Regions from separate parts of the Homo sapiens genome. Here region 2 is linked to region 1. The links come from fine-mapping of genetic effects on gene expression. A gene starts in region 1. The other region holds a variant in brackets. All regions are shown on one strand. Distances are from middle to middle. Region 1 holds the start of NIPSNAP2 (nipsnap homolog 2). Region 2 overlaps NIPSNAP2 (nipsnap homolog 2).

Region 1 (5,000 bases):
ATGTCCAGGAAGCGGCTGGGAATTCCAAGCTTGCTGCTGAGCAGCACTAAGTGAAATACGCTGGCTAATGTACAGGCAGGGATGAGGCTCCCGGGAGGACGCCCTTCTCCCTTGCTGAAACTGATTCAGCAAATCCTGTTTTCTTCTGTCATTTTACCTAACACTTTGGCAGCGGATGGCACTCCCTCCCTCCTCCTGGCCACTGCCACATAACAATGAGCTTGCCAGCTCCCCCTCCTACATTCAGCCTATATACGCTGCACATCCCAGGACTTGCTTTGCAGCCCCTTCTCTCTCCACACTCTCGCCTCAAGCAATCTCACACATTCCTATATTTTTTTGTTTGTTTTATTTTGGAGACAGGGTCTGGCTCTGTCACCTAGGCTGGAACGCAGTGGCATGATCTCGGCTCACTGCAACCTCCACCTCCCAGGTTCAAGCCATACTCCCACCTCAGCCTACCAAGTAGCTGGGACTACAGGCGTGTGCCACCATGCCGGGCTAATTTTTGTATTTTTTGTAGAGATGTGTTTTGTCATGTTGCCTGGGATGGTCTCGAACTCCTGAGCTCAAGCGATCAGCCCAGCTCGGCCTCCCAAAGTGCTGGGATTACAGCCTGAGCCACTGCACCCGGCTTCCTATGGTTTAAAAAAAGTTTCATTATACAAATTTTTATTTATGTACTTATTTATTATTAGGGACAGAGTTCCACTATGTTGCCCAGGCTGGTCTCAAACTCCTGGGCTCAAGCAATCCTCCTGCCGCAACCTTCCAAAGTGCAGGGATTACAAGTGTGAGTCACTGCGTCCAGGCTTTATTATGAAAAACGTAAATCAAATACGAAACAGTATAATGAAATCCATGTGTCTATTAACATTTAGCATTCCTATATACTGACAACTCCTAAATGTTACCTGTAGCCCAGACACCTCCTTTGAGGAGTCATACTGCCAACTGTCTGTTTGCGTTTCCACTTGAATAGCACACAGCCTTCACAAACTTTACCAGGTCCTAAACTGCTCTGAATTCTTCTTCCCCAGCCCTCCTGAATTACTGGTAAGCTCCGGATGGCCTTGGACGCCTTATTCACTGATGTCTCTCAACAGTCAACAGTGCCTGGCACGTGGTAGGCACTCACATTTTGGCAGAACAGCTCTCTGCAAACTCTCAACTCTCAGTGCCAGGGTCCACTCAGCTGGCCACTACCCTTAATTCTGCCCCCTCTCCCAAGTCAGACTCATCTTTTTAAAAAGATCAGGCCGCGCCTGGTGATTCACGACTGTAATCCCTGCACTTTGGGAGGCCGCGGCAGGTGGATCACCTGAGGTCAGGAGTTCGAGATCAGCCTGACCAACATGGTGAAACCCCGTCTCTACTAAAAATACAAAAATTAGCCGGGTGTGGTGGTGCATGCCTGTAATCCCAGCTACTTGGGAGGATGAGGCAGGAGAATTACTTGAACCCGGGAGGCGGAGGTTGCAGTGAGACAAGATCGTGCCGTTGCACTTCAGCCGGGGCAACGAGAGCAAAACTCCGTCTCAAAAATATAAATAAATAAACAACAACAATAATAATAATAATAAACCATGTTACTGAAACCTCCCTGGCCCATGGCGAGTTTAACACACAGTTCCTTAGGTAATTTAAACTACCCAAAGCAATGAATACGAGAAAGCAACTCTGGGTAAGTCAGGATAGGCTTTGCTGTTTGAATGTGGAAAACAGCACATGCAAATATCAAGGTGATGAATTTGGACAACCAAACGTCCAATCCACTGAAGTTAGAAAAAAAAAAAAGTTTAAACAAGAGCCCCACGCCTGAACTTAGTGCTGATAACTCTAAGTACTTTTAGATCCACGGCCGGCTTTAAATTTCAACTCCAAGACGTTAAGTGATTTGACCTCCTCCAAGCTCTAACTTCCCCTACGCTCCGCGGAGAGCTGGCCCGGGACAATGCTTTACTCTTTTATTCCCTACTCCCGGCACCTCAGAGACCAGGGTCACCAACGTCCTCGGCAGACGCAGCCACTCAGGCTTGGAACAGCCTCCGGCGAGGACCCAGCAGACGGCGTCCGGGGCCTGCGGCCTCAGGCGCGCGCTGTCCCTGTCCCTGGCCACGGGTCGCGCCGGTCAGGGCCCTGCAGGCCGGGCCAGCGCCGCGGGGAGGATGTGGCCTCCGGGCCAAGCCTCGGGGGCCTTCCCGGGCGAGGGTGGAGCCGCAGAGCGGCCCGTCCCCTCCGTGACCTTGAGCCCGAGGACGCCCCGACCCCGCCCCAGCTCCGGCCCCACCCCAGCTCCGGCCCCACTGCCCCGAGGCCGGGCAGCCACCCGCGCTGGGGACAGGGCCGGGGCGGAGACCGGCGCCGGGAAACCCGCGCCCTCCGCCTCGCGGCGGCCCCTCCCCGGCACCTCCCGGGAAGGGCGGCGCTGCTCACCGGAGCCTGGGCAGGAGGCTGCAGGGGGCCGCCCGCTGCAGGAGGCCGCCGGCCCAGGCCGCTCCGCGGGCGCGCAGCACTCGCGCCGCCATCTTGCTCGGCGCCTCGGCTCCCACCGCCCGGGCGCCGCCGCTGACGCCGCCGCCGCGCGACCCCTCCCCCGGCCGGGCCCCAACGCGGCCACTGCAGTGCGGGGCGCGGCCGCCAGGGGGAGCAGGGCGCGCGGCCGCGGGGGTCGGCGGGGCGTCCAGGCGCCAAGGCCCGGCCGCTGCGGGAAAGCGCGAAGCCCAAGCGCAGTCAGTGCAAGCCGATCACTTCAGCGGGAGGAGCTCGGTGCCCAGAAGCGCGGGTGCAGAAGGGACAAGGGCATAACTTCAATGATCAGGGAAAACTCCAAAAGGAAAGAGTAACACTGTGCCTAGGGGAATCCAGGGCCTGGGGCGGGGCAGTGGCAGTGGGTTTACCCCCACCCCACCCCGCCAATGTCTTTTAAATTTTGTAGTATATGAATATATTGTCATTTCAAAAAGCCCCACAACGCTTTAACAAGTGCATTCTGGGGCCGGACGCAATAGCTCACGCCTGTCATCCCAGCACTTTGGGAGGCTGAGGCCGGAGATCTCTTGAGGCCAGGAGTTCGAGACCAACCTGGGCAACATAGCGAGCCCTCACTGTGCAAAAACATTTTTAAATTAGCCGGGCATGGAGGAGCACGTCTGTGATGCCAGCTACACTGGAGACTGAGGCAGAAGGATCGCTTGAGTTCAGGAGGTGGAGGCTGTAGTGAACTATGATCGTGCCACTGCACTCCAGCCTGGGCAAACACACGACGTCCTGTAGCGAAAGAAAGAAAGAGAGAAAGAGAGAGAAAGAAAGGGAGGGAAAGGAAGGAAGGAAGGAGAAAGAAAGGAGGAAGGAAGGGAGGCAGGAGAAAGAAAGGAGGGAAGGAAGGAGAAAGAAAGGAAGGGAGGGAGGCAGGAGAAAGAAAGAAAGAGAGAAAGGAAAAGAAAAGAAAGCAAGTGAGGAAAAAATTAAAAAACACCATACACACACAAAAAAAATTAAGGAGAAAGGACTGGGAAGGTTCTCTTGAGGTCTTGGGACTGCATCGTTCCCATTCATTTCAGCACCGGTGGGCACTGGCCATGGGGAGTCCTTGGTACCTTACCCTCAAGGCCGTCTGGGTCTAGTGGGGACAGAATGTACAATGATGATTGGACCGAGTGTGTTAAGTGTCAAAATGGACAGGTTCATGAGACACGAAAGAGGCACGGAAAGAGAGCATGTAACCGGGGGTGGCTGTGAATTAGAGGATAGATGGGGAGAAAGTTCTCCAAGGAGCTGGCAGGACATATCAGTCCCAGGGGAAGAAGGGAGGGCATCCCTGTCTTGAGGAAATAACTTAAGCAAAGGCGTGGATCTGGGTGGCTGGCGCTATAGAGGGAAAAATGTGTCCTCCAGGAAGATTTTTTAAAAAGCCACAAATGAGCCAGGCACGGTGGCTCACGTCTGTAATCCCAGCACTTCGGGTGGCCGAGGCGGGCGGATCACCTGAGGTCAGGAGTCCGAGACCAGCCTGGCCAATATGGTGAAATCCCATCTCTACAAAAATACAAAAATTAGGCAGGCATGTTGTCGGGTGCCTGTAATCCCAGCTACTCGAGAGGCTGAAGTGGGAGAATTGCTTGAACCTGGGAGGTGGAGGGTGCAGTGAGCCGAGATTGTGCCTCTGCACTCCAGCCTGGGCAACAGAGTGAGACTCCATCTCAAAAAAAAAAAGAAAAGAAAAAGAAAAAAGCCACAAATATAACCATGAAAACTGCAACCAAGGTGAGGGCAGGAGGAAGGAAGCTGGACCCTGGGGGTGGGGGAGAACCTGGGAGAAGTAGGGGCTCTGGCCACCAAAGGGAGCATTTCCAGGCCAGTGCGGGGCTGCAGAGGCAGAGAGGAAAGTGCCCTCAGGACTGGGTTGCTTGGAGGTCATAAGGTGGACAAAAACTGGGAGGTTCCCTGAAGCTGGTAATCTTGGGGGCCAAGGGAGCATCAGGGCTCAAGGGGTGCAGTTTTCTGACTGGGGTAGAATTTGAACACGTTAATATGGCAAGGAGCCACCAGGGAGGACAGAGGTGGACCCTGTGGATGGAGGAGGGCTTTGCCCCAGAGCAGGGAAAGGCACCTGTCCCTTGGAGGCCAGTGGGATGGAGGCCAAGGGACACAAGGATAGGAGGCCAGAGGCTGTGTGGCTGAGGACCTCCTGGCCTCAACTAGTGTATGCTTAGTAAAGCTGTGGAGAACCCTGTAAGAAGTACTTTTTAAGTGGTCCATTTTCAGAAAACAGACAAGTCTGGGCAGTTCCCTTGTGGATGTGACAAGATGCACGGGTACAGACATCTGGGAAGAGTGATAAAACTCACAGAAGTCAGAGGGGAGGGAGAAAAGTGGCAGGGGTGTCTAATCCATAAAAGGAAAGAAAGCTTAGCCATTGGGAAATCGAAACTTCAAGTAGGGAAGAGGACAAGATGTAACCTAATAAGGGGATAATGGAACTTAGGTGATGTCCAGGA
Region 2 (5,520 bases), 27 kb before region 1:
TTTGAGAAAATGTATTTAATAATTATTAAAAATAAAAACAGCAACCTGAAGATGTATATATAGTTGCACTGGTGATTCTTGAAATAAAGTCTAGAACTGGCAGAGGATGGGACCCGTCAATTTAAAAAGCACTGCTTCTCCAGAACACCCTCAGAGGGGAAGCGAGGCAAACCTGGAACTAGAGCACCCAAGGTGCCACAGGGCACTGTACCCAAGGGAGACAGGGACCACCCCTGGGGCAGGGCGTTAAAACACAGGTGAAGGAAGCACACCTTCAAAGCAGCTGATGACTCTGAAATCCTGAGAAACACCCCTGCTCTCTGAACTACACAAGGGACTCTGCAACTTCTTGGATGCCATACAGAGGAACCATGGGAATGAAGCTTTCTGGTGGTACAGCCTCAGTAGTGCAGGCAAAGCTGCCTCTTGCTTTTTTTTTTTTTCTTTCCTACTAGAGCAAACCATTCAGAAAATGAGTACCAAAGGCATTCATTATGTACCAAATATGGAAGAAAGTACTAATATACATTGTGCCTCTGTGGACATCACACTATGATCAGTTAAAAATAGGCACTTGGCTTAAAACTTTAAGAATTTCCCACTGCAAAAGGTATCAGCTCTTTAATTTTTTTTGAAACAGTCTTCCTCTGTCTCCCAGGCTGGAGTGCAGCGGCGTGATCTCAGCTTACTGCAATCTCCATCTCCTGGGTTCAAGTTATTCTCGTGTCTCAGCCTCCTGAGTAGTTGGGGTTATGGGCACATGACATCACGCTCGGCTTTTTTTTTTTTTTTTTTAGATGGAGTCTCGCTGTTGCCCAGGCTGGAATGCAATGGTACGATCTTGGCTCACTGCAACCTCCACCTTCTGGGTTCAAGCGATTTTCCTGCCTCAACCTCCCGAGTAGCTGGGATTACAGGCGCCCACCACCACGTCTGGCTAATTTTTTGTATTTTTGGTAGGCATGAGGTTTCGCCATGTTGGCCAGGCTGGTCTCGATCTGCCCCGCTTCGGCCTCCCAAACTGCTGGGATTACAGGCATGAGCCACCAGGCCAGCCTACAGCCCTTTTTTTTTTTTAGACGGAGTCTTACTCTGCCACTCAGGAGTGCAGTGGCGGGATCTCGGCTCACTGCAACCTCTGCCTCCCAGGTTTAAGCTATTCTCCTGCCTCAGCTTCCTGTGTAGCTGGGATTACAGGTGTGCACCACCACGCCTGGCTAATTTTTGTATTTTTAGTAGAGATGGGATTTCACCACATTGGCCAGGCTGGTCTTGAACTCCTGACCTCAAGTGATCTGTCCACCCCAGCCTCCCTAAGTGCTTGGATTACAGGTGTGAGCCACTGCGCCTGGCTCAGAGCCCTTTCCTTTCATACTTGCACCACTTAAAAAAAAAATATTTAGTGATGCATCTGAATTCCTAAAAATGTTTTAAAATGTGCCCATTTTTTCAAAAGCAGTCTTCTAGAATCAAAGGTGAAAAGGAAGGGGCTTCAAATGACATAGGGAGGTCACCAGAAGACACATGGTTAAGGTCTATCAGGAGATGACACACCATGCATTACCCAGTAAATCCATACCACACTGCCCAGGCTCTGGCCTGAAGTCTCAGTCATATCAGGGTCCCACAGGTGACAAGACTTGGGAAGACAGATTCACTCTAATTCATTCAAAAGAGCTGGCAGCATATAAACAAGGATAGCAACCTACTAACAATGACAGTGAAAGATGTCACTCTCAAGGCACAAGATGCTTGAGTTGGCTTGGCTGAGCATTCTCTTCCTGGAGGCAAACTTCATATATACTGAATGATAACATCTCAAAAGGGGGAAAAAAATCCAAGAGTGATTTCCTGTGAGTGACTAAGCCAATCTCCTTTTTTAAGACAGAGACTCACTCTGTCACCCAGGCCGGAGTACAGTGGCATGATCTTAGCTGACTGCAGTCTGGAACTCTTGGGCTCGAGGGAGCCTCCTGCCCCGGCCTCCTGAGTAGCTGGAACTACAGGCTTGCACCACTAAGCACAGCCAATTTTTTATTTTTTATTATGTTTTTGTTGTTGTTGAGATGGGGCCTTGCTATGTTGCTTGGGCTGGTCTCGAACTCCTGGGCTCAAGCAATCCAGTCTCCTTAAAATCACTCTACACCTCTGCTCTAATCCACCATGGGCTCAGTGCCATGATGGGAACCTTACCCAAGCGCTTGGGTTCCTTTATGGTGAAAAAGGGACTTCTTGCTATTGCCCCCATGGATTATCCACAAATAAGATGACATCTTTAATCTTTACATTGAGAATTAAGTGATCAATATCTTCACAGAAATTATAAATCTGATTATTGAAATTAAGCAAATCACTTCAATGTGCATTCTAACTCTATTCAGAAGAAAAAAACCTGGCTTTCATTGATAGTGATAAATATTCCAGATTATTCATTTCATTCTGAATTTTTGTAATTTAGTTATGGTAGGCAAA[C/G]AAAACATACTTGCCTTAGCCTGGTAACAATCAGAAGCCTGTACAGACGAGGTGGTCACCATCTTAGTTACCTATGTGCCAAAATATAAATTGAATGCTAAACTGGCTTTATAAATTATATATATATATATATTTTTTTTTTTTTTTTTTGAGACAGAGTTTCACTCTTGTTGCCCACGGTGGAGTACAATGGTGCGATCTTGGCTTGCCACAACCTCTGCCTCATGGGTTCAAGTAATTCTCTTGCCTCAGCCTTCCGAGTAGCTGGGATTACAGGCATGCACCACCACACTTGGCTAATTTTTGTTATTTTTAGTACAGACAGGGTTTCTCCATGTTGGTCAGGCTGGTCTCGAACTTCTGACCTCAGGTGATCTGCCCATCTTGGCCTTCCAATGTGCTGGGATTACAGGTGTGAGCCACCGCGCCTGGTCAAATAATTTTTTAAATAACTGAATAACCCCAGTATGTCCCTGTGGATTCCACGGCGAGCGAGTCTTGATCAGTAATGGGCAAAAATTGAACTAGTGAGTAATCCTATTCCGTGAGTAGCTACATGATTAACAACAATAGTCCAAAAACAAAAGAACAAAAATTGTATATAATAGTAGCATACAACCAAATATGTATTTCTTAGTTTTCAAATGAAAAGAAATTCTAACTTCCATTATTTAGCCTTTGATGATCTAAGGAGGAAAGGTTCATTAGAAATAAAGATCACAGAACTATTTGTTGGAGACAGAAGGGATCTTAGAAATTATTTCATGCACAGCAGGAAATTTCATAACCGAAAAAAGAGAAAAACTGGGGCCGAGCGCGGTGGCTCACACCTGTAATCCCAGCACTTTGGGATGCTGAGGCAGGCAGATCACTTGAAGTCAGAAGTTCGAGATCAGCCTGGCCAACATGGCGAAACTCTGTCTCTACTAAAAATACAAAACATATTAGCCAGGTGTGGCGGTGCACGCCTGTAATCCCAACTACTTGGGAGGCTGAGGCAGGCTAATCGCTTGAACCCAGGAGGCAGAGATTGGAGTGAGCCGAGACTGCGCCACTGCACTCCAGCCTGGGCAACAGAGCAAGACTCCGTCTCAAAAAAAAAAAAAAGAAAAAGAAAAAAGAAAAGATATAAGTTGAAGTTAAAAAAAAAGGCAAAAAGGTACAAGTTCTCTTTTCAAGGTGAGAGCTGTCAAGTAACTCAAACCCAGAGCTTTTTCTCAGCACCATGTGGCCTCCCCCTTTGTGGGTAAATAGTTATGAAATGCCAGCTTAGGAAACAGAAATAGCAAGCTGCCAAAGAAAAGTAAGAGTTAACATAATTACTTCAAAGAAATAAACACACACATCTCCCCCTAAAAACAAAAAACAGGCTAGGCACGGTGGCTCATGCCTGTAATCCCAGCACTTCGGGAGGCCGAGGCAGGCGGATCATGAGGTCAGGAGATCGAGGCCATCCTGGCTAACACAGTGAAACCCCGTCTCTACTAAAAAACACACAAAAAATTAGCCGGGTGTGATGGCTGGTGCCTGTAGTCCCAGCTACTCAGGAGGCTGAGGCAGGAGAATGGCGTGAACCTGGGAGGCGGAGCTTGCAGTGAGCCGAGTTCGCACCACTGCACTCCAGCCTGGGCAACAGAGCAAGACTCCGTCTCAAAAAAAAAAAAAAAGAAAAGAAACAAAAATTAAGGTACAGAAATATGTTAAGTTTCAAAGAAAAAAAATGCTATAAATCTTTTGTTGAATTAGATATAGATGTATGCTTCAGATTATTTTAGGAAACTATCCCAATGTTTCAAAATTATATATATATTCTGAGATGGAGTCTCACTCTGTCGCCCAGGCTGGAGTGCAGTAGTGCCATTTTGGCTCACTGCAGCCTCCATCTCCTGAGTAGCTGGGACTACAGGTGCTCGCCACCACACCCAGCTAATTTTTTTTTTTTTTTTTTGGATTTTTAGTAGACAGGGTTTCACCATGTTGGCCAGGCTGGTGTCAAACTCCTGACCTCAAGTGATCTGTCTGCCTCAGCCTCCCAAAGTGCTGGGATTACAGGCGTGAGCCACCATGCCCAGGCAGTATTTTTAGCTTCCAAAGAAATCCCATAATGAAGTAAGTATGGAGACTGGTAAAAAGAAAACACCAACAATCTCACCATCACAGAACCCTAAATGTCACTAGTGTTTTTCTTTCCATTTCCTGTCCTAGGCACTGACTTCAGCTAACCAATGGTCAATAATTTATTCTTGCATCCCTCTTAATTATTGAGGCTTTTTTGGGACAGGATCTTGCTCTGTTGCCCAGGCTGGAGTGGAATGGCATGATCATGGCTTGCTGCAGCCTCAACAGCAAGGGCTCAAGTGATCTTCCTGCTCAGCCTCCAGAGTAGCTGGGACTACAGGCAAGTGCACCACTGCACCTGGCTAATTTAGTATTTTTTGTAGAGATGAGGTTTCACCATGTTGCCAAGGCTGGTCTTGACCTCCTGGGCTCAAGGGATCCTCCCACCTCAGCCGCCCGAAGTGTTGGAATTAGAGGTGTGAGCCATAGCACCCGGCCTATTGAGGCTTTGTATGTCTCTGTCTTTTCTCATATTATAATAGTCAGGATTTCTAAAAACGGTATTAAATCATAATGGTGAAAGCTGGTATTTTGTTACAATTGTAATCAGCATGCTTCTTGTGTTTCTTGTGTTTTGAATTTAAGGTAGCTCCTGGGAGGACGTGGACAGCTTTATCATTTAAAGCAGGGCTAGTAAACTGGCCCTCTGGCTAATCCCACCCTCTGCTGATGGGCATTTAGGTTGTTTCTACTTGTTGGCTATTATAAAACATGCTGCTATGGTCACTTAAGTGTTTACATGGATGTTTGCTTTCTAACTTGCATTATTTAGCCTTTGATGATCCAAGGAGGAAAGATTCTTGTATAAGAAACACTTATACACATATATATAAGTGTTTATATGGATGGTATCTTTTGGGTAGACACCCAGGAATGAAATTGCTGGGTCATATGTAATTTTTTTTTTCTTTTTTTTGAGATGGAGTCTTG

Evidence for each region. PIP is the estimated chance that this variant, and not a neighbour inherited with it, causes the effect. A credible set is the group of variants that fine-mapping cannot tell apart.
Region 2: its variant is the best candidate, but not a certain one, in a credible set for the expression of NIPSNAP2 in whole blood (INTERVAL, PIP 0.68).

The regions. Positions count from the first base shown.
Region 1 is chr7:55,962,138-55,967,137 of GRCh38, reverse strand. It overlaps NIPSNAP2 (nipsnap homolog 2), which reads right to left and starts at 2,553. Exons shown (of 10, transcript NM_001483.3): 1 at 2,437-2,553. The coding sequence starts at 2,528. RefSeq lists enhancers at 1,511-2,244, 2,814-2,893 and silencers at 2,014-2,493, 2,554-2,663.
Region 2 is chr7:55,988,851-55,994,370 of GRCh38, reverse strand. All of the region lies in intron 7 of NIPSNAP2 (nipsnap homolog 2), which reads right to left. Among named protein-coding and RNA genes, the nearest start is that of NIPSNAP2, 27 kb to the right of the region's middle. RefSeq lists a silencer at 1,648-1,848. The variant C/G (reference allele first, on the strand shown) is at 2,473.